5 separate regions of the Homo sapiens genome follow, and regions 1, 2, 4 and 5 are each reported to be linked to region 3. Evidence: microRNA targets listed by miRTarBase, many of them from high-throughput screens and not tested one by one. Region 3 holds a microRNA gene; each other region holds the end of a gene's coding sequence.

Evidence for each region. The annotated mature microRNA hsa-miR-92b-3p reads UAUUGCACUCGUCCCGGCCUCC and lies in region 3 at 1,438-1,459, opposite strand. An mRNA with a match to its seed (bases 2 to 7 or 8) in the 3' UTR can be bound and repressed. Matches are read on the target gene's strand: a 7mer-m8 pairs with bases 2 to 8, a 7mer-A1 pairs with bases 2 to 7 and ends in A, and an 8mer does both.
Region 1: miRTarBase lists IKZF2 as a target of hsa-miR-92b-3p. The part of its 3' UTR that is shown has no 7-base or 8-base seed match.
Region 2: the mRNA of CASD1 is a reported target of hsa-miR-92b-3p. Seed matches in the 3' UTR shown: 7mer-m8 at 3,344-3,350.
Region 4: the mRNA of STAT2 is a reported target of hsa-miR-92b-3p. Seed matches in the 3' UTR shown: 7mer-m8 at 2,880-2,886, 7mer-m8 at 2,888-2,894 and 7mer-m8 at 3,174-3,180.
Region 5: the mRNA of PARVG is a reported target of hsa-miR-92b-3p. The part of its 3' UTR that is shown has no 7-base or 8-base seed match.

What each region holds. Positions count from the first base shown.
Region 1 is chr2:213,004,697-213,007,696 of GRCh38, reverse strand. It overlaps IKZF2 (IKAROS family zinc finger 2), which reads left to right. Exons shown (of 9, transcript NM_001387220.1): 9 at 1-3,000. The coding sequence ends at 337. Among named protein-coding and RNA genes, the nearest start is that of MIR4776-2, 80 kb to the right of the region's middle.
Region 2 is chr7:94,554,575-94,559,598 of GRCh38, reverse strand. It overlaps CASD1 (CAS1 domain sialic acid O acetyltransferase 1), which reads right to left. Exons shown (of 18, transcript NM_022900.5): 17 at 5,024; 18 at 2,580-4,107. The coding sequence ends at 3,841. LOC105375404 (a long non-coding RNA gene) reads left to right here and starts at 1,104. Exons shown (of 4, transcript XR_007060433.1): 1 at 1,104-1,177. RefSeq lists an enhancer at 3,440-3,489.
Region 3 is chr1:155,193,696-155,196,695 of GRCh38, reverse strand. It overlaps MIR92B (microRNA 92b), which reads right to left and starts at 1,519; the gene lies at 1,424-1,519. THBS3 (thrombospondin 3) reads left to right here. Exons shown (of 23, transcript NM_007112.5): 22 at 570-709; 23 at 797-1,108. The coding sequence ends at 855. It overlaps THBS3-AS1 (THBS3 antisense RNA 1), which reads right to left and starts at 1,699. Exons shown (of 6, transcript NR_183238.1): 1 at 1,324-1,699. RefSeq lists an enhancer at 1-530 and a silencer at 1,687-2,016.
Region 4 is chr12:56,340,770-56,345,435 of GRCh38, reverse strand. STAT2 (signal transducer and activator of transcription 2) reads left to right here. Exons shown (of 24, transcript NM_005419.4): 23 at 1,301-1,611; 24 at 1,905-3,839. The coding sequence ends at 2,047. Among named protein-coding and RNA genes, the nearest start is that of IL23A, 4.2 kb to the right of the region's middle.
Region 5 is chr22:44,205,020-44,210,043 of GRCh38, reverse strand. It overlaps PARVG (parvin gamma), which reads right to left. Exons shown (of 14, transcript NM_022141.7): 13 at 4,215-4,287; 14 at 1,575-3,727. The coding sequence ends at 3,618. Among named protein-coding and RNA genes, the nearest start is that of PARVG, 27 kb to the right of the region's middle. RefSeq lists an enhancer at 4,905-5,024.

The sequences.
Region 1 (3,000 bases), not on the chromosome of region 3:
TGACCACCAGTCCTACCAAGGACACCCTGCCTTAAATCCCAAGAGGAAACAAAGCCCAGCTTACATGAAGGAGGATGTCAAAGCTTTGGATACTACCAAGGCTCCTAAGGGCTCTCTGAAGGACATCTACAAGGTCTTCAATGGAGAAGGAGAACAGATTAGGGCCTTCAAGTGTGAGCACTGCCGAGTCCTTTTCCTAGACCATGTCATGTACACCATTCACATGGGTTGCCATGGCTACCGGGACCCACTGGAATGCAACATCTGTGGCTACAGAAGCCAGGACCGTTATGAGTTTTCATCACACATTGTTCGAGGGGAGCACACATTCCACTAGGCCTTTTCATTCCAAAGGGGACCCCTATGAAGTAAAGAACTGCACATGAAGAAATACTGCACTTACAATCCCACCTTTCCTCAAATGTTGACATACCTTTTATTTTTTTTAATATTATTACTGTTGATAATTCTTATTTTGTGGAGGCAGTGTCATTTGCTCTGCCTAATTACGATAAGGAAGAAACAGAAGAGAGAAGGGGCGGGAATATTGTTTCTTTATCACCTGGCTTGTTTATTTTGTGGGAATTTAAGAGCAGTCCATTTCTACCAAGGCATATCATGCTTTGAAAAATCACTTGATTCATAAAGATTCACCTAAGAGATTCTGATTTGCCACTGATATTCAGAATTATGATGGAAGACAGGAAAGTTCAGAGTTTTCTGGGTAGGACTTTGGTGGTTTAAAAATGGTATAAGTAACTTTATTCTTGAAAGAAGAATGTGTTTCAAACTGTAAACCAATTTTTTGTTCTTCAGAGATCATGGAACACAAACACATTGTTATTTTCAGTGATAACTCCTAAGAGGAGCTGAGTTGTTGTGGGTTCTATGTTTACTTCCCCTATGGAATTTATAATTCAGTATGTTTTACACTGTACCATATAGCAAAACTTTTAAACTACAGGTAGTTAAGGGCCACCTACAATACATCTGAGGTCCTGTGATCTTATTTTTCTAAACGTAAGCACTGTTTTTCCATAGTTTTGATGACTGGCATTTTATAGACACCCTGGCAGCCTTACTTTTAACACCTTTAAGGAATAGTATTTTTATGTAGTTTTCAGAATAACATATGGTCTAAGAGTGGATAAAAGGCAGTCAATAATTTCTGGGAGGGACTTCTACTTTCATAAATTTGTTTGAGAGGTTTTCTTTTAAAGTTGTAATGTGATGGCAGCATAGTATATGTATTTGTTTCTAAAAGTATGCTTACGATTGTCACTTTATCAGCATTTAATCAGTGTTAACCAGTCAGCAGAAAAATATAATTATGCTAACAGTAGGGGGAGAAAACCCACTTAGAAATCCCTTTTCTGGTATTTCTCTTTTCACTAGTTTTTTTCAAGATGTGACCTCCCGGTGTTCTGTCCATAGTTCATTCATCCTTTACTCTTCGAGTAGAAGGTCTTAAAAGTCTTCCTGTCGGCTGTTTCTTTCAAAATCTCCTCAGAGCAATTGCTAATTTGGCCTGAATCTGGTAACTTGAACCCTGTAAGGTTACAGAACTAGGGCTATTTATTTTAGCATTTCTTCAGTAGTATTTACTACTCTTGTTGCAAAGAAAAGGGAATGGGACTTCTTTGTAACCTGTACCTTGGACAACAGATAAAAGAAACAAAAAAATAAGAAAGTTTACTTTTACCCTTCTTGGAGTCTAGAATGTGACAGAACCCCCAAAGGAAAGTCCTGCACATTTTTCTGTTTCCAAAACATTTAATTGTGTAAGTCCTTGTCAGAAATGAATCTCAATCCCTTAGTATAGAATTCCCCTTACATGGTATAGGTTGCCATATTTCATGTGCAGATTTTAATTTCATTTATGTGGGCGCTCTGTTTTTTCTTTGCAGTCCAGCCACATTAGAGGGGAGGAACCGAGTGATATTGATTCAAGTCATTTTAGGGGGACATACTTGGAAGGCAGAACTTGCTGCTTCTGTTTGGGGAGGACAGACCTGACTGTGACTGGATTATCTGATAACCATTTGTGAATACTGAAATTCTGTTAGGCAGTAACTGATAACTGCTCTAAAGGATCATTAAATAGGATGCTGAAATTATGTATCTTAATACAGTGTGGTATGAGAATTACCAAGTCAAGAGAATTGTGGACATAAGCAAGTTTGGCCCCAATACTGCTCTTAACTCATTTTCCAGCTTACTATTTGCTATTTAAATGGTAGGCACCAGCTAAGCACTTCTAAGCACTAACACAGCTAGAACTAGGCAAAAATGGTTAGAACTCAGCTCTCTTCTACTAGTCCCTGTCATAATTATTTTTGGGAAAATGTCCAAACTGCCCCCTTTAAATCTAAGGGAATGCACCAAAACAGAGATATATAGAATGTCAACCATTTCATTTTTTTTTTTCTGCATGCCTTGGTACATAGTGAACATACAACCTATTTAAAGATAAAGCATGTTTTTGAGACTCGCTCACCCCCCCCCACCCAACCACTCCCAAATAATAATTGGGATGCCATTTTTTTTCCTTTTGGATGAGGTAAATAATTTTAAGGTTCACAATTTTGTCTTTTACTGCAATTTAAGGAAACATTTGGATGTCAGTCAATATGTTCATAATTTTGGCTGTGTGCGAATTTCTGCTGGCATTATCTATGAATTTTCTTCCTACTTATTTTTTTTTCAGTATATGAACAATCATGTATCTACCTGCCCCAGGATGAAACTAAATTTAGGTGGACCCTAAACCTTATGAAGACAGTGCTGAGGCACTTTCCTTTTCTGATTTCATCTTTTTGGGAATCTGTTTTATTGAAGGTAGTTAGTAGTTGAGAGTGCATTTGCTACAAGCATATACTTGTATCTTCCTAGCTTCATGAGGAACAGAAAGAGGTGGATATGGCTCAGGGTGTGGCAGGGACAATTGAGGACAAAGTCAATTCAAATTTGTGGGTCAGAAAGAATTTTTGTGGACGTAGT
Region 2 (5,024 bases), not on the chromosome of region 3:
AGCCGAGATTGCGCCATTGCACTCCAGCCTGGGCAAGAGAGCGAGACTGCCTCTCAAAACAAAACAAAACAAAAGCAAAACAATTTTAGTATCTTTTTTACTAAGATGTAAAATGTCAGGTGCTCAGGACAATTTTACTGCTGAATCCCTGAAAGACAAAGGGTATTTTATTCCATTTCATATTTCCCCCAAATTGTTCATAATGGTTACTTTTGAACATAAATGTCTGCGTAATTGTAAAAGAAATTATTCCATATATATACATATATATATACACACACACACACACACATACACACACACACACACACACACACACACAGACATATATACAGAATTTGGGTATTCCAATATTGTTATATTTAGGTTCTGGTACCACATTGAATGCCAGTTAAATAGCTTCCATTTGTGTCTCCTTGTTTCTACTATGACTATTAATATGGAAAGGCAGAACAAATAGTGCCATTAAATTTTTGTAAGATTTAAAATCAGAAAATCAGGCCAGGCACAGTGGCTCACGCCTGTAATCCCAGCACTTTGGGAGGCTGAGGCAGGTGGATCGCTTGAGGCCAGGAATTGGAGACCAGCTTGGCCAACAGGGTGAAACCCCAACTCTACTAAAAATACAAAAATTAGCCAGGTATGGTGGCAGGCACCTGTAATTCCAGCTACTCAGGAGGCTGAGGCAGGAGAATTGCTTGAACCCAGGAGGCGGAGGTTGCAGTAAGCCAAGATCACGCCACTGCACTCCAGCCTAGGTGACAGAGTAAGACCCTGCCTCAAAAAATTAATTAATTAATTAAATAAAATAAGAAATCTATTCTGGAAATCAGTCATCAAACACCACAATTTTGGGAATATAGTTTGGACGACCACTTCCTTTTCTGGAAACCATTTTTAGAATAAGAAAATGAGCCAGAATACACCTTGCCAAATAAGTTTCCCCAAATCACAATTATGATTTGGGGAATGAACACAAGAATGAACAAATTAAGTCATAAATGTATGCAATCATTTTTGAATGTCTTTGCAGAGAAATATTCAAAGTGGTAAGATGGATTGAACTGCCAACCAAAATTGTCAATCTTTATTTCAGTCTTCACTATTAAGCTAAAAAGGTAATTTTTCTCTTGAATGATGTGAAGAATTGAATTTCTTTCAACTGTTCCAAAAATCTGTAAGTACAATACTACCTAATCTCCTGTTATGCAACAGACTCCCATGTGGTACATCCAATTCATTACACAAAACACTGAATTGTCTGCAATGCAAGCCATGGAACACATCCAGTTTATGATATCAATGACTATATCCAGGATGCATTCCCGTTTTAAGGTTTTAGTATAAAGTCATTCGAGAATAGAATAATAAATGAACTTGGGTCCCACATCCTTGTAAAACATTATTAATTTAGATGGGCTGAATTTTTAATGCTTCTATTGGCTACCCACAAAAATGGGAAGTTTTGGCAAAGGAAAGGAGGAACGATTGAGGTAGAATTCAGTCAAGCAAGTACCTTTTAAAGCCAGATGGTAGATTTCTGACTGTGATTTCTATTACAGAAAAATCTGAATTTAGAGAACCTCTGTGGTTTTATCTCAACTTTAGCATATCTAAACATCCTGTTAAAAATCTTATTCTAAAGAATGGTATGATTGAGTAATGCAAATGGTCAGTATCTGAGTCGATGCAGAAAATAAAATATTAAGACATTTACCGTATATATAGGTGCTATCATTGTGGCAACTTCCACAATAACCTTTTAAGACTAATTAAGAAAATCAAATATAAAAAATATTTTTAACTACAAATAAATTATTTTTAAATTATACAGATTATTATATAATTATATGTAAAAAATAGTGCTTTATATTAAATAAGAACAAGTGATGAAGAAACAGGGCTCACCAGGTAAGTTTTAGGCTTCAGTTCAAATAGGAGAGAAAAGCATATATTCACTGCGGCATCCCTACTGAAGACATAAGTGCTTCCAAAATACACAGGGAGACTGGTCATCTTTCTTTTTCAATTGTTTCATCAAGAAGAATCTTTTTCAGGTGATAAAACTTACAAGCTAAATTAAAATGCACTCTACTCATTGGCAAGCTACATGAACAAGAATAATGTGATCACAGTACTTGGAAGTTTTTGATTTATAACTATACTATTCTCTACTTATAAGGCTGCAGTCTAGGAGGCAGAGCAATGAATCATTACAATTGTCTATCTGGGAAATGTCAAAAGATTAAGTAAGGGCAAAAGAAGAGAGAAAAGGAAAGAACACACATCTCTGTCCAAGAAATATTCCTCTATTAATGGAGGTATATCAGTAGCACATAAATCCAGTGCTAAATAAATAATAAGTACATTTTTAAAATCTTCAAGCAAAATCACTAATGAACCATAATGCTTAAACTTCCTTGGTGGAAAGCAGATGACCCTCTGAAGCTCTGATAACTAAATGATTCCTTATCCAACTATCATTTGGTAACCTACCCCTACATATTAAGCAATTTAAAAAGCAAATTTAAGTTGAGGAAATAATTAGATATTTGAACCAATCATGAATGGATCCAGCATTTTTGAAAAAGAACACATATAGTTTAATTGATACTTTGCCAATACAAAAATAAGCATCCACAGAATGTTTATTTACTGTTTAAATTACTCCATATTTTCATATACTGTGAACAGAAAATATATTTTACCCCACATATAGTAAAAGCAAACAAGTGCAATCTTTCAAACATTAAAATCATAATCAAATCTGTACAACAGATAAATAAATGTATACCTCTAACAGTTAGCTTGTAAAAAAAAATCAAACAAAAAGCAAAAACATTTATTGCCCAAATTCACCAGTTTACTTAAAATTCTACTTATGGTAATACAGCTCAATCGTAACAACTTGCATGTTTACTACACTGCACAAGTTTAGACTGATAAATATTTAAAATAGGAGGTGGGTAATAGGAAATACCAAATGGCTATAAAGAGCTTTCCAAATATTGGAAATAATATACGAAAATTAATTAGTGGGGATAACATATTAAATGGATCCACAGGGTAACTGGTATTACACTGGTATAGCTTGAGGAAAGGAAACAGGTGAACGTTTGGATTGGAAAAAAAATTTTGGCTTTTTTATAAAACGAAGCAACAATAACATCAACAATGACAAAACCCTGTCATGGAGCCTCAGAACTATTCTGTGAGACAAAGTGTACAAAGATTTAGGCTTGCATACCCGAAAACCACAGTTAGGAAGAAAAATCATTTCAGGAAACAACATCAGAACAAGAACACATATAAATTAAAGGCATACTGTTTATCATTCCACTTCATTGCACATATAAGAAAACAATACTGCCGTCATTCTTGAGTAAGAAAGTTTCCAATGAAAGAGGAAGTTCCACAATGAATACAGGTGCAGACAGTCTTATTACCACAAATTTAGTTATATCAAAACACTTGGTGGTGTCACTAAGTTAATTAAATTATCTATACTTTTTACTGGAAAGGTAATCATTTCCCTGCCTTCATATGTTAACTTAAAATCACTTACAAATGGAAATATAGATTCAGTAGAAAAGACTTCACATGCAATCCTATACAATGCATTCTGGTTTTTTGTTTGTTTGTTTGTTTTAGTATTTCATATTGGATATGTACATTTCCAATATATACAACCACATATGTTCAACAGATGTCACAGAACTGTCCTCTTGCCACAAACGTTTATATTTACATACACATTTATATCTCCAGATAGATGCTTTTCTCTTCTAGAGACACACAAAGGTAGCCTGAAGAGTTTAGGTTTTTTAGAATTTTTGGAACCTAATGTTTTGATTTATCTTGAATGGATGATAAGATGAGGAGTCCACAAAAAAATGCAGCTATACATGCCAACCTTTTCAAGAGAGATGAGTTATCTTTAGGAATAATAATCTGTGCAAGATCATTAGTGATCTGAGAAATTTCATGTGCCACACAAACAAATATGAAAGTGCTGACAATGATGTTGAGCATAGGGTTTCCAGGTATCAGTACCAAGATACCCCTTGTGTCCGCTGCCAGCCATATGTGATACTGGCAAATAAATAGCTAGGAGAAAAAATATTTAAGTCAGATATTTATAGAGGGTCCATGAATAAATTACAGTTTTCCCTAATTTAAACAATTTGGTTGCATAATAACATTAGAAGGCTTTCCTAAAACCATTTTATTCTGTCTCACTACTGGCCCTGAAAAGTCCACTGCAGTCTACTCCTTAGAACTCCAACTGCTAATACAATCTCTCTTATAAATGAGACCAAAGAAAATAATAGAACAATTATTCAAGAACTCAAAGAGGAATTTATTTTCCCTATTTTAAGAGACAATTTAATAAATCCTATACTCTAAAAACTCTAAAATATATGTTGTTATTACAATATAAATTGTTTTAAAACATTCTATTTCAAATAATAAAGCTTAGACTACTCAGAATACATTTTAAAACCTACTGTTCAAACTGATTTTGTAGATAATTTCATATTATGTATCTTACACAAAATGTAATGAGTTTATACTTTCTCCCACAATTTCCAATCATAATAAGGGTAAATTTTATTATGGTATGCATCAATAAACTGAATTCCAGTAATATATTTAATTATGGAGATGAACAAAAAATCAAAATCCCCTCAGTTTGATTTCATTTATATACCTGGTCTAATATTTTTCTCTCTTGGTCTCAGCATCTTGGTTGTGCTTGAAAGCTCAAGACAACGTAAATAATATTTTGCAAGTAATCTATATCTAGTCATTTAAAAATAAGGCTTAAAAACATTCCAAAATACTTTAGTATTGTTGAAAGTTCTAAGTCTTTTCCCTGTAATTCCATAATAGCTTCAGTTTAGAAAAAAGTACGTCCGATTTTCATACTCACATATATGTGTGATATTTACACACACACACGTACATACACAAACATGAAACACCTGGCTGTGTAAGATAAGCAAAATATTAATGTACCAACC
Region 3 (3,000 bases):
AAGGCATCATCATTTACAGAAGAGAAAATCAAGGCCCTGACTTCACAGGCCTCGGTTCAACACTTTGTCCACAACTTTGCATTTCTCTCCAACAAGTAGCCCTAGTTGGTGGAGATGAACAGGAAGGGAGGGGAAATGGGTCTGCTTAGAGGCTGGACTTTCCATGGCCAAGAGCCCAGAGTCCAGGAACCTGGGTTGGTTCCCCTTTAAGGTGCCTGGGGCTGTGGGGTGCCAGGACAGGGGATAAAAGGGGGTGGACTAGAGCCTGGGAAGCGGGTGACTTCACCCCCCAGCCCATTGTGCTTATTGTCATGGCAACCCAATCCTCGCTTGGAATGCGGCTGGTGCTTTGAGATGCAAAAGGAGCTGGACAAAGAGCTAGGGGCCCCAGGCCTGAGAAAAGCACCCCCCTTCCCTCTCCTTCCTGCCTCCCTTTCCCTCCCTCCCTTCTCTCTCAGGCCTGGTGAGCTCAAGGGGGGCTGGGGAAAAGCAAGGCCCCAGGCATGGTGGCACAGTGCCCACTGGCACCCTAGCACCAATGGATACTCCTATCCTGGAATCCTGGACAGGGTGAAGCTCTATGAGGGACCCCAGCTTGTGGCGGATTCTGGGGTGATCATTGACACATCCATGCGAGGGGGGCGTCTTGGTGTATTCTGCTTCTCCCAAGAAAACATAATTTGGTCCAATCTCCAGTATCGATGCAATGGTGAGGTGGCTGATTGAGATCAACCTAATCCTTCATGCCTTGTGGGAGAGCCACATCCTCTGACCTTACTTATTTCCCCTTCTTCAGACACAGTGCCTGAGGACTTTGAGCCATTCCGGAGGCAGCTGCTCCAGGGAAGGGTGTGAGGAGGAGGCCACCAGATTCAGAATTCAGAATTTTAGACCCTTTGGCCTTGGGGTCCATCCTGGAGACCCTGAGGTCTAAGCTACAGCCCCTCAGCCAACCACAGACCCTTCTCTGGCTCCCAAAAGGAGTTCAGTCCCAGAGGGGTGGTCACCCCACCCTTCAGGGGATGAGAAGTTTTCAAGGGGTATTACTCAGGCACTAACCCCAGGAAAGATGACAGCACATTGCCATAAAGTTTTGGTTGTTTTCTAAGCCAGTGCAACTGCTTATTTTAGGGATTTTCCGGGATAGGGTGGGGAAGTGGAAGGAATCGGCGAGTAGAAGAGAAAGCCTGGGAGGGTGGAAGTTAGGGATCTAGGGGAAGTTTGGCTGATTTGGGGATGCGGGTGGGGGAGGTGCTGGATGGAGTTAAGTGAAGGATAGGGTGCCTGAGGGAGGATGCCCGAAGTCCTCCCAGACCCACTTACTCACGGTGGCAGCGGCGACACTCCAGTCTATCAAAGATCCGCCGGGATGGAGAGCCAGGAGGGCGGGGGCTGCCCCGCTAGGGGTAGCGGGGAGGCCGGGGGGCCGGGGGGGCCGGAGGCCGGGACGAGTGCAATATTGGCGGGGGAAAAAACAACACTGCACCGCGTCCCGTCCCTCCCGCCCGCCCGGGGCCCGGGATCCCGCTCCCCACCGCCTGAAGCCGGCCCGACCCGGGAACCCGGGGCGCGCTGGGGAGTTGGGTTCACCTTGGAGGCCAGAGAGACTTGGCGCCCGGAAGGCAAAGGGAATGGCAAGGGGGAGGGGGGAGGGAGAACGGGAGTTTGCGGAGTCCCAGAAGGCCGCTTTCCGACGCCCGGGCGTTGCGCGCGCTTGCTCTTTAAGTACTCAGACTGCGCGGCGCGGAGCCGTCGCCATGGTGACGCGTGTCCCAGCAACCGAACTGAATGGCTGTTGCTTGGCAATGCCGGGAGTTGAGGTTTGGGGCCGCCCACCTAGCTACTCGTGTTTTCTCCGGCCTGCGAGTTGGGGGGCTCCCCGCCTCCCCGGCCCGCGCTCCCGGGCGCGCTGACGTCAGATGTCCCCACCCCGCCCAGCGCCTGCCCCAGGGTCTCGCCGCACACAAAGCTGCGCCTCGGGCGCCGCGCGGCGCGCGGGCGAGAGCTGTGGTCTCTCGCCTGCTGATCTGATGCGCTCCAATCCCGTGCCTCGCCGAAGTGTTTTTAAAGTGTTCTTTCCAACCTGTGTCTTTGGGGCTGAGAACTGTTTTCTGAATACAGGCGGAACTGCTTCCGTCGGCCTAGAGCGCAGCCTGCGACTGCGGGACCCAAGTTCCACGTGCTGCCGCGGCCTGGGATAGCTTCCTCCCCTCGTGCACTGCTGCCGCACACACCTCTTGGCTGTCGCGCATTACGCACCTCACGTGTGCTTTTGCCCCCCGCTACGTGCCTACCTGTCCCCAATACCACTCTGCTCCCCAAAGGATAGTTCTGTGTCCGTAAATCCCATTCTGTCACCCCACCTACTCTCTGCCCCCCCCTTTTTTGTTTTGAGACGGAGTCTTGCTCTGTCGCCCAGGCTGGAGTGCAATGGCGCGATCTCGGCTCACTGCAACCTCCGCCTCCCGGGTTCAAGCGATTCTCCTGCCTCAGCCTCCTGAGTAGCTGGGGTTACAGCGCCCGCCACCACGCTCGGCTAATTTTTGTAGTTTTTAGTAGAGACGAGGTTTCACCATCTTGGCCAGGCTGGTCTTGAACCCCTGACCTTGTGATCCACTCGCCTCGGCCTTCCAAAGTGTTGGGATTACGGGCGTGAGCCACCGTGCCACGCCCGATCTGCCTCTTAAGTACATAACGGCCCACACAGAACGTGTCCAACTCCCCCGCCCACGTTCCAACGTCCTCTCCCACATACCTCGGTGCCCCTTCCACATACCTCAGGACCCCACCCGCTTAGCTCCATTTCCTCCAGACGCCACCACCACGCGTCCCGGAGTGCCCCCTCCTAAAGCTCCCAGCCGTCCACCATGCTGTGCGTTCCTCCCTCCCTGGCCACGGCAGTGACCCTTCTCTCCCGGGCCCTGCTTCCCTCTCGCGGGCTCTCGCTGCCTCACTTAGGCAGCGCTGCCCTTACTCCTCTCCGCCCGGTCCGAGCGGCCC
Region 4 (4,666 bases), not on the chromosome of region 3:
CTTGACCTAGGGGTTGAAGCAATGCTCCTGCCTCAGCCTCCCAAGTAGCTGAGACTACAGGCACACGCCATCACACTCAATCACACTCAGCTAATTTTTTAAATTTTTTGTAGGGATGGGGTATCACTGTGTTGCCCAGGCTGGTCTTGAACTCCTGGCCTCAAGCAGTCTCCTGCCTTGGCCTCCCAAATTGCCGGGATTGTAGGAATGAGCCATGGCACTTGGCTGGGGATAGAATTTTTTTTTTTTTTTTTTTTTTTTTTGAGACAGTCTCACTCTCATTGCCCGGGCTGGAGTGCAGTGGTGCAATTTCAGCTCACTGCAACCTCTGCCTCCCAGGCTCAAGCAATTCTCCTGCCTCAGCCTACTGAGTAGCTGGGATTACAGGCGAGCGCCACCCATGCCTGGTTAATTTTTGTTTTTTTTTTGAGACAGAGTCTCGCCCTGTTGCCCAGGCTGGAGTGCAGTGGCACGATCTCAGCTCACTGCAACCTCTGCCTCCCAGGCTCAAGCAATTCTCCTGCCTCAGCCTCCTGAGTAGCTGGGACTACAAGCGCGCACAACCACCACACCTGGCTAATTTTTGTATTTTTAGTAGAGACAGGGTTTTACCATATTGGCCAGGCTGGTCTCAAACTCCTGACCTCATGATCCGCCCACCTTGGCCTCCCAAAGTGCTGGGATTACAGGCGTGAGCCTCTGCACCCGGCCTAACTTTTGTATTTTTAGTAGAAACAGGGTTTCACCATGTTGGCCAGGCTGGTCATGAGCTCCTGGCCTCAAGTGATCTGCCCGCCTCAGCCTCCCAAAGTGCTTGGATTACAGGTGTGAGCCACCATGCCTGGCCTGAGAGTTTATTATGCGCCAGGCACTAGGCTAAATGGTTTGCATTTATTTTCTCATTTTATTGAATCTACAAAATAGTCCTGTGAAGTAAACACTGTTACTGTTTTCAGCTAAGGAACTGGATTTAGAGTAGTCAAGTTTTGTACCTAAGGTACGTGGCTAATGATACAGGTCTGTTAGATTCCGTAGCCCTGATTTTAACCACCCTACTGCCTCTCAAGAATTACTAGGTATTGTTCTCATTTATAGATGATAAATCTGAGGCTCAGAAAAGTTAGGCCACTTGCCTAAGGTCCCCCAGCCAGGATTCAAACTCCAGGAGGCCTGATTCCAAACCCATGCTCTTTAGCCCTCCGCCCTACTGCCTTCTTAGACTAGCTTCTGCTTATTCTACCATTCCTGATTTCATTTGAACCACTGAGCCCTGCCCCTTTGTCTGTCTTTGGGTATCCAGACAGGTGGATGAACTGCAACAACCGCTGGAGCTTAAGCCAGAGCCAGAGCTGGAGTCATTAGAGCTGGAACTAGGGCTGGTGCCAGAGCCAGAGCTCAGCCTGGACTTAGAGCCACTGCTGAAGGCAGGGCTGGATCTGGGGCCAGAGCTAGAGTCTGTGCTGGAGTCCACTCTGGAGCCTGTGATAGAGCCCACACTATGCATGGTATCACAAACAGTGCCAGAGCCAGACCAAGGACCTGTATCACAGCCAGTGCCAGAGCCAGATTTGCCCTGTGATCTGAGACATTTGAACACTGAGCCAATGGAAAGTAAGTGATGAGATGGAGCTATGGAAGATGGCACACATTCCCTTTCCTACCTCTTCTCCCTCTCCCATTACAGAAAAAGCTGAACTCCAAGCTCCTCATTGGAGAGAGGTCCATTCTGTGATTCCTTTTTTTAGGAATTACACATGCCTTCCCCCACCTCCCTGCTCTTTCATCCCACAAGTTCCCACTCAGGCTCTTCCCAGGCCTTTCCTGCCATCCTCCCTCCCTTTCCCTGCTGGGTTGGGAACTCCTAACTAAGATCGGGGCCTCACTTTTCTCTCTGGATTACCTAGTCTTCAGAAACTGTGTAAAGATTGAAGAAATCATGCCGAATGGTGACCCACTGTTGGCTGGCCAGAACACCGTGGATGAGGTTTACGTCTCCCGCCCCAGCCACTTCTACACTGATGGACCCTTGATGCCTTCTGACTTCTAGGAACCACATTTCCTCTGTTCTTTTCATATCTCTTGCCCTTCCTACTCCTCATAGCATGATATTGTTCTCCAAGGATGGGAATCAGGCATGTGTCCCTTCCAAGCTGTGTTAACTGTTCAAACTCAGGCCTGTGTGACTCCATTGGGGTGAGAGGTGAAAGCATAACATGGGTACAGAGGGGACAACAATGAATCAGAACAGATGCTGAGCCATAGGTCTAAATAGGATCCTGGAGGCTGCCTGCTGTGCTGGGAGGTATAGGGGTCCTGGGGGCAGGCCAGGGCAGTTGACAGGTACTTGGAGGGCTCAGGGCAGTGGCTTCTTTCCAGTATGGAAGGATTTCAACATTTTAATAGTTGGTTAGGCTAAACTGGTGCATACTGGCATTGGCCCTTGGTGGGGAGCACAGACACAGGATAGGACTCCATTTCTTTCTTCCATTCCTTCATGTCTAGGATAACTTGCTTTCTTCTTTCCTTTACTCCTGGCTCAAGCCCTGAATTTCTTCTTTTCCTGCAGGGGTTGAGAGCTTTCTGCCTTAGCCTACCATGTGAAACTCTACCCTGAAGAAAGGGATGGATAGGAAGTAGACCTCTTTTTCTTACCAGTCTCCTCCCCTACTCTGCCCCTAAGCTGGCTGTACCTGTTCCTCCCCCATAAAATGATCCTGCCAATCTAATGTGAGTGTGAAGCTTTGCACACTAGTTTATGCTACCTAGTCTCCACTTTCTCAATGCTTAGGAGACAGATCACTCCTGGAGGCTGGGGATGGTAGGATTGCTGGGGATTTTTTTTTTTTTAAACAGGGTCTCACTCTGTTGCCCAGGCTAGAGTGCAATGGTGCAATCACAGCTCACTGCAGCCTCAACCTCCTGGGTTCAAGCAATCCTCCTACCTCAGCCTCCTGGGTAGCTAGCACCATGGCATGCGCCACCATGCCCTATTTTTTTTTTTTAAAGACAGGGTCTTGCTATATTGCCCAGGCTGGTCTTGAACTGGGCTCAAGTGATCCTCACGCCTTGGCCTCCCAAAGTGCTGGGATTATAGGCATGAGCCACTGTGCTTGGCCAGGATTTTTTTTTTTTTTTTTTTGAGATGGAGTTTCTCTCTTGTTGTCCAGGCTGGAGTGCAATGGTGTGATCTCGGCTCACTGCAACCTCCGCCTTCCGGGTTCAAGTGACTCTCCTGCCTCAGCCTCCCCAGTAGCTGGGATTACAGATCTGCACCACCATGCCCAGCTAATTTTGTATTTTTAGTAGAGACGGGGTTTCTCCATGTTGGTCAGGCTGGTCTCGAACTCCTGACCTCAAGTGATCTGTCCACCTCGGCCTCCCAGAGTGCTGGGATTACAGGCGTGAGCCACTGTTCCCAGCAGGAATTTCTTTTTTATAGTATTGGATAAAGTTTGGTGTTTTTACAGAGGAGAAGCAATGGGTCTTAGCTCTTTCTCTATTATGTTATCATCCTCCCTTTTTTGTACAATATGTTGTTTACCTGAAAGGAAGGTTTCTATTCGTTGGTTGTGGACCTGGACAAAGTCCAAGTCTGTGGAACTTAAAACCTTGAAGGTCTGTCATAGGACTCTGGACAATCTCACACCTTAGCTATTCCCAGGGAACCCCAGGGGGCAACTGACATTGCTCCAAGATGTTCTCCTGATGTAGCTTGAGATATAAAGGAAAGGCCCTGCACAGGTGGCTGTTTCTTGTCTGTTATGTCAGAGGAACAGTCCTGTTCAGAAAGGGGCTCTTCTGAGCAGAAATGGCTAATAAACTTTGTGCTGATCTGGAAATGTCTCATCTCTGATCCTCTTTATTTCCCTGCTCACAAAGGCTAATGTTCTTAGGGACACCAACAAGCTGCACAGGAATGAAGTCAGAAAATTGTGGCCTCTCTTCCATCCACCCCTCTACATTCCTCTTGTCATATTTCTTCTTCCCTTCCTGTTTGGAGTAGCCCCTCCTGTCCGTTAGACTCTTCTAGGGGTGCTGGGAGCTATATATGCATTGTGGGGGGAGGGATGAGTAGTTATATAACTGTCTCATTGTCACTCAGCTGATTGTTGGCAAAGCCAAAACACAAACCTGTCTGGATTTTTCTGACTTCAAACCCACACTTTTTGATGCTGTGACTATGGAAAAAAAAGGAAAGGAAATAATCACTAGCCACTTCCCCTCATCTTTTCTTTTTTTCAAAGAATTTCAGCTACCCTTGAGTTACCAAACTTCCAAAGGGACTCCAAGGCCGGGCATGGTGGCTCATGCCTGTAATCCCAGCACTTTGGGAGGCCGAGGCAGGTGGATCACCTGAGGTCAGGAGTTCAAGACCAGCCTGACCAACATGGTGAAACCCCATCTCTACTAAAAATACAAAAATTAGCCAGGCGTGGTGGTGCGTGCCTGTAGTCCCAGCTGCTTGGGAGGCTGAGGCAGGAGAATCGCTTCAACGTGGGAGGCGGAGGTTGCAGTGAGCAGAGATCACGCCACTGCACTCCAGCCTGGGCAACAGAATGAGACTCCATCTCAAAAAAAAAAAAAAAAAAAAAAAAAAAAAGGGATTCCAATTGTCCTTTGAGAGGAAAGTCCCATTATTCTAGGATATTTATCTTCATTTCCCTGG
Region 5 (5,024 bases), not on the chromosome of region 3:
TGTATATAAAGTCTAGAGCAACCCCTAGGAAATGAAAATAACGAAATACAGTTGGTAAGCCAATAATGGAAATAAATTCACATCGCTAAAAAGTCTTCAATCCAAAAGGAATAAGAAAAACATATGAACAAGGCAAACAGCAAGATGGCATTAATAATTCCATTAAATGTAAATGGACTAGAGGTACCTAGAATAGTCAAATTCACAGAGACAGCAAGTAGAATAGTGGTTACCGTGGTCTGAGGGAGGGGAGAAATAGTGGTTACCATGGCCTGAGGGAGGGGAGAATGGAGAGTTAGTATTTCCTGGGTGCAGAGTCTCAGTTTGGGTCGATGAAAAAGTTCTGGAGATGGATGGAGGTGATGGTTGCACAACAGTATGAATGTACTTAATGCCACTGAATTGTACACTTAAAATGGCTAAAACGGTTAATTTTGTGCTATGTATATTTTGCCACAATAAAAAATGTAAGTGGACTAAACCCTCTAATTAAAAGGCAGAGGTTTCCAGATTGTACAAAAAGACACAATTATTTGTGTCTATAAGAAACCTACTTTAAACAGACGCAGTTTAAAAATATAGAAAAACATATACCATGCTAATACTAACAGAAAGTTTGAGTGGCTATATTAATATCAGACAAAGCAGATTTCAGAGTAAGAGATATTACAAGGGATAAATGAGACAAAAGGACATTATAATCTTATATGAGGTATGAAACAAAAATTGATAGAACTGAAAGGGGAAATAGTGAAATGTACAGTTACAGTTGAAGATTTTAACACTTCTGTCTTGGTAATTGACAGAAGTAGTAGAGAGAAAATTAGCAAGGATATAGAAGATCTGAACAACATAATCAACCCACTTGACCTAATTGACATTTATGAAACATTTTGTCCAACAACAGCAGAGCACACATTCTTTTTCAAGTGCATACAGAATATTTACCAAGATAGACCATAATCCAGTACATAAAACAAGTCATAATGCATTTTAAGTGATTTAAATCATACAAAGCATGTTCTCTGACCACAACAAAACCCAATGCCAAAAGATAGCTGGAAAAAAAATCCCAAAATATTTGGAAATTATACACTTCTAAATAACCCATGAGTGAAAGAGGAAGTCACATTTGAAACTAGAAGATATTTTGAACTTCATGAAGGTGAAAACACAACATATTAGTATCTGTGGGATGCAGCTAAAGCTGTGCTTAGAAAAAAAAATCCAGCATTAAATATTTATATAAAAGAAAAATATTCTCAAATCAGTGATCTTAGCTCCCCAATATTTTTAAGATGTCAGTTTTCCCCAGTTTGATCTAAAGAACACAATTCCAGTCAAAATTTCAGCAGGCTTTTTTGCAGAAAATGACAAACTGATTCTAAATTTTATGTAGAAACCAAAAGAATTAAAAAGACCTAGAAAAACCAAAATAATTTTTGAAATGAAGAACAAAATTGGAGGACTTATTTTTGAATGTACTAAGGACATGAGTTGTTGATACAAGAAACAATGGAGATACTCTCAATAGCATTATGCTAAGTGAAAGAAATCAGACACAAAAAGCAACATACCATAGGATACAGTTTATAAGAAATTCTAGACAAGTCTAAATGATGGTGACAGAAAACAGATCAGTGGTCCCCAGGGCCAGGGGCTGGGAGAAGGGAACTGGCTGCAGACAGATGCAGAAACTTGCATGGTGATGGGAATGTCCCATGTCTGGATAACGATGGTGGTGGTTATATGACTGCATGCATTTGTCAAAACTCATCAAATTGTACACTTCAAACTGGGAAGTTATTTTTCAATAAAGCTACAGTAATTAAATAAGTCACTTTTTTTTTAATTGCTGTCAAATAGAACAAGAGTGAGGACGTGGAACAGCCAGGCAGAGCCAGCCTGCAGCGGATGGGGCCCAAGCAAGTGAGGACTCAAAGGCCCCAGGAAGTGGGGCTGGATTTCAGGCTTTTGGGATGAAGCCAGCTGAGAGAGGCTGAGCCTGTGTCCCCAGAAGCTCCAGGAGAGGATTTGAGGTGCTGGAGGGGGCATCGCAATGGAGGGGGCACCTGAGCAGGTGGAAGGAGCTGGGCTCCAGGTACCTGGTGTGGGAGGATGCACGTTTCCCAGAGGCAGCCGGGAAGTAGGGTGGGTATCCATGAAGAGGGGTGCATCTGAGTGCTCACGTGGAACACGCTTATGGGCTTGGGTTTGCCCTGTGAATTGGGAGCTGAGAAGGGCAGGCAGATGGGAGGCTAGGTGAAGGGAAGACCCCTCAAGGCCTTCTCACACCCAGACACCAGCTCCCAGGGCTGACCTGGCACTGCGTCCCTGGCTCCCATCTTGCTCCCCCGAAGGACATCTGCCTAGGCGCCCCCAGTGGGTGTCAATGATGACCTAGCCCCTAACCCCCATCTAAAGCCCCTCCCCAAGGCCTCAGCTGTCAAACTGTGAAAACCCCAGACCCAGAGGCCTCTTCAGGGTCCAGGGAGGAGCAGCAGCCTGGGGCTGTGGTTGCCCTTCTCCCCAGCCTCACCCCTCCCCACAAGTCCCACTCCTCCCCACAAGTCCCACTCCTCCCCACCAGGCCCCAGCCCTCCCCACCAGCCTCACCCCTCCCCGCCAGCCTCACCCGTCCCCACAAACCCTCCCCTCCCCGCCAGCCTCACCCGCCCACTAGCCTCACTCCTCCCCACCAGTCCCACCCCTCCCCGCCAGCCTCACCCCTCCCCGCCAGCCTCACCCCTCCCCATCAGTCCCACCCCTCCCGGCCAGCCCCAGCCCTCCCCACCAATCTCACCCCTCCCCGCCAGCCTCCTCCCCGGTTCCCATCAGCCATCAGCTCTGCCCCACTCTGGATGCCCTGGACTGACTATGTGCAATTCTCCCACACGACTCTTCTTTATGTGCAGAAAATGCCAAGTCTCACTGGAGCGAGTGGGAACCCACAGCTCCCGAGGACAGACTGGAGATGACCTGAACCCACTAATCAACCACGAAGATTGCTTCTTTGTGACTTTTGGGCAAAACTCACGAGGGCAGCTGCAGGACACAGCCCGGGTTGCTTTGACAGTCACTGAATCCACTTCTCCCGGTGGGTGGGGGCATGGCTATGGAGCCATTCGGGCTCCTGCCCTGGAGGGTGACTCTGGGGCCCATCCTCCCGAGTGAGAAGCAGGTGGGTGTGGGGAGCTGGGCTGGAAAAGGTGGGGTCTGGGGCTGTGGGCCCTGTCCCTGAGAGTCCCCAGCCCTGAGTGATGCCACCTCTCTGGGCGGTCACTAGCCTGGGCCCAGAGATGAGAGACTGATGTGACACACACTCACCCCATGGGAGGGAGGCTGCAGGTTTAAGGGCCCTCCTCAGGACCCTGTCAAGTTCCCAGAATCCCTCCCAGAAATACTTTTATTAAAATAAACTGAGCAAGGCCAGGCGGCTCAAAATGATCCACACAAGGGGGTTCAAAGATAATCCAACGATGGAGACAGGAGACAGGGTGGGAGGGAAGCGGGTCACGAATGCACAGGAAACAGCGGGACTGTGGGAGGACACCCTGCAGCCTCGGGCCCTCCAGCTGGGCTGACAGGCAGGCTCTGGGCTTTGGAGGCAGTGAGGGTCAATTCGGGGCTCCATGGGGCGTCCTGTCCCTGTGTGCCTTCTGCGTGTGCTTGCAGAACAGACCATAGAGCACCCTCAGTGTGCTCTTGGCATCCTTGTTCACGATATCTGCGGGCCAAAGGAGGGCAGGGCAGCCAGTCAGGCCTGGGTGGCAGTGACCGACTGTCCCGATGTGGTCAAGGTTTCCTGGCATTCAGGATTTCAGTGCTAATCCCAGGAGAATCCCTGGAAGCCAGGACAGCTGGTCACTCCAGGCCTGGGTCCCGCGCCTGCTGCGTGACTGCCTCCTCCTCCTGGCCAGTCCTCCTCTGAATGCTCCTGTGGTGCCCCCAACACAGCAACTCCTCAAGGTCTGGCTTCTCTGGACAACCTGTCCCCAGAGACCTTGGTCTCCCCCTCCCCAGAACCTCTTCCCCTGGGGCTGCAGTGCCCCCTCCCAAGAAACCTTGGCAAGCGCCCATTCTCCACCCCTGCCAGGCAAGAGGACTCTGCCAATGCGTGCTCATCCCCCAATGCCCTGCACCCTGTTCTGTGGCTCTCGCACAAGGCTGCCACCCAGGGCTGGCCACCGTGTGGGCATCTGCCTTGCACTCACCTTCAGGGCTGACAGGGCAGCTGAGCAGGCCCTCGTCCTTCAGCAGCTCCAGCGCCAGGGTGACGTTGTGCAGCTATGATGACAAGGCCCTATCAGATGTGGGCACAAGCAGCAGCCCCAGGCCAGGCCTTGGGTCCCAAGTGCCAAGCCCTTCCTGTTGTCTGTGATGTCCATCATGAGCCTAAACTCCCATCCAAGGTGGGCATCCCTGACCACGACCACAATCCGTGGTCATCCAGCATCTCCCTACAGCTCACTCTGTCACACAAGCAATCCATGTCTCATTCCTCAGCCACTCACAGGCCCCACTCTGAGCAGGTGCTATACCACACTGGGCACACGCTTGCGTCCAGGGGCCACTGCCCGTGAAAAAGGCAATCGCCAAGGAGGATACCCAATAGGGATCAGGGAAGGCTTCCTGGTGGAGGTGAAGCCTGGTGGTGAGTCCCGCCAGGCAGGGAGAACTACCCAGGGAAAGGAGCAAGGGCCTGGGGTGGCAGAGCACCTTTGAGAACAGCTGTTTCCCAGGGCAAAGCACAGTGAGGAAATCAAGGCTCAGAGGAGCCAAGGGGCTCACTGGAGCTCACGAGACAGAAAGCGCTCAAACCAGGTCTGTCCGCTCCAATGCTCATGCAAAGCAGGCTAGAGACTGGAGCGGTCCCCACCCAGGTGGCTGTCCTTTCCGCCACCCCTTGCCTGGGGTGCAGTCTCAGAGATGGCTCCCTTTAGGGTGGAGAGCGCCCGGGCATCAGTCAAGTCCCCCAGTGATTCAGAGCTCAGCTTAGTCCCTGCCCAGGGCCTCCCCTTGCT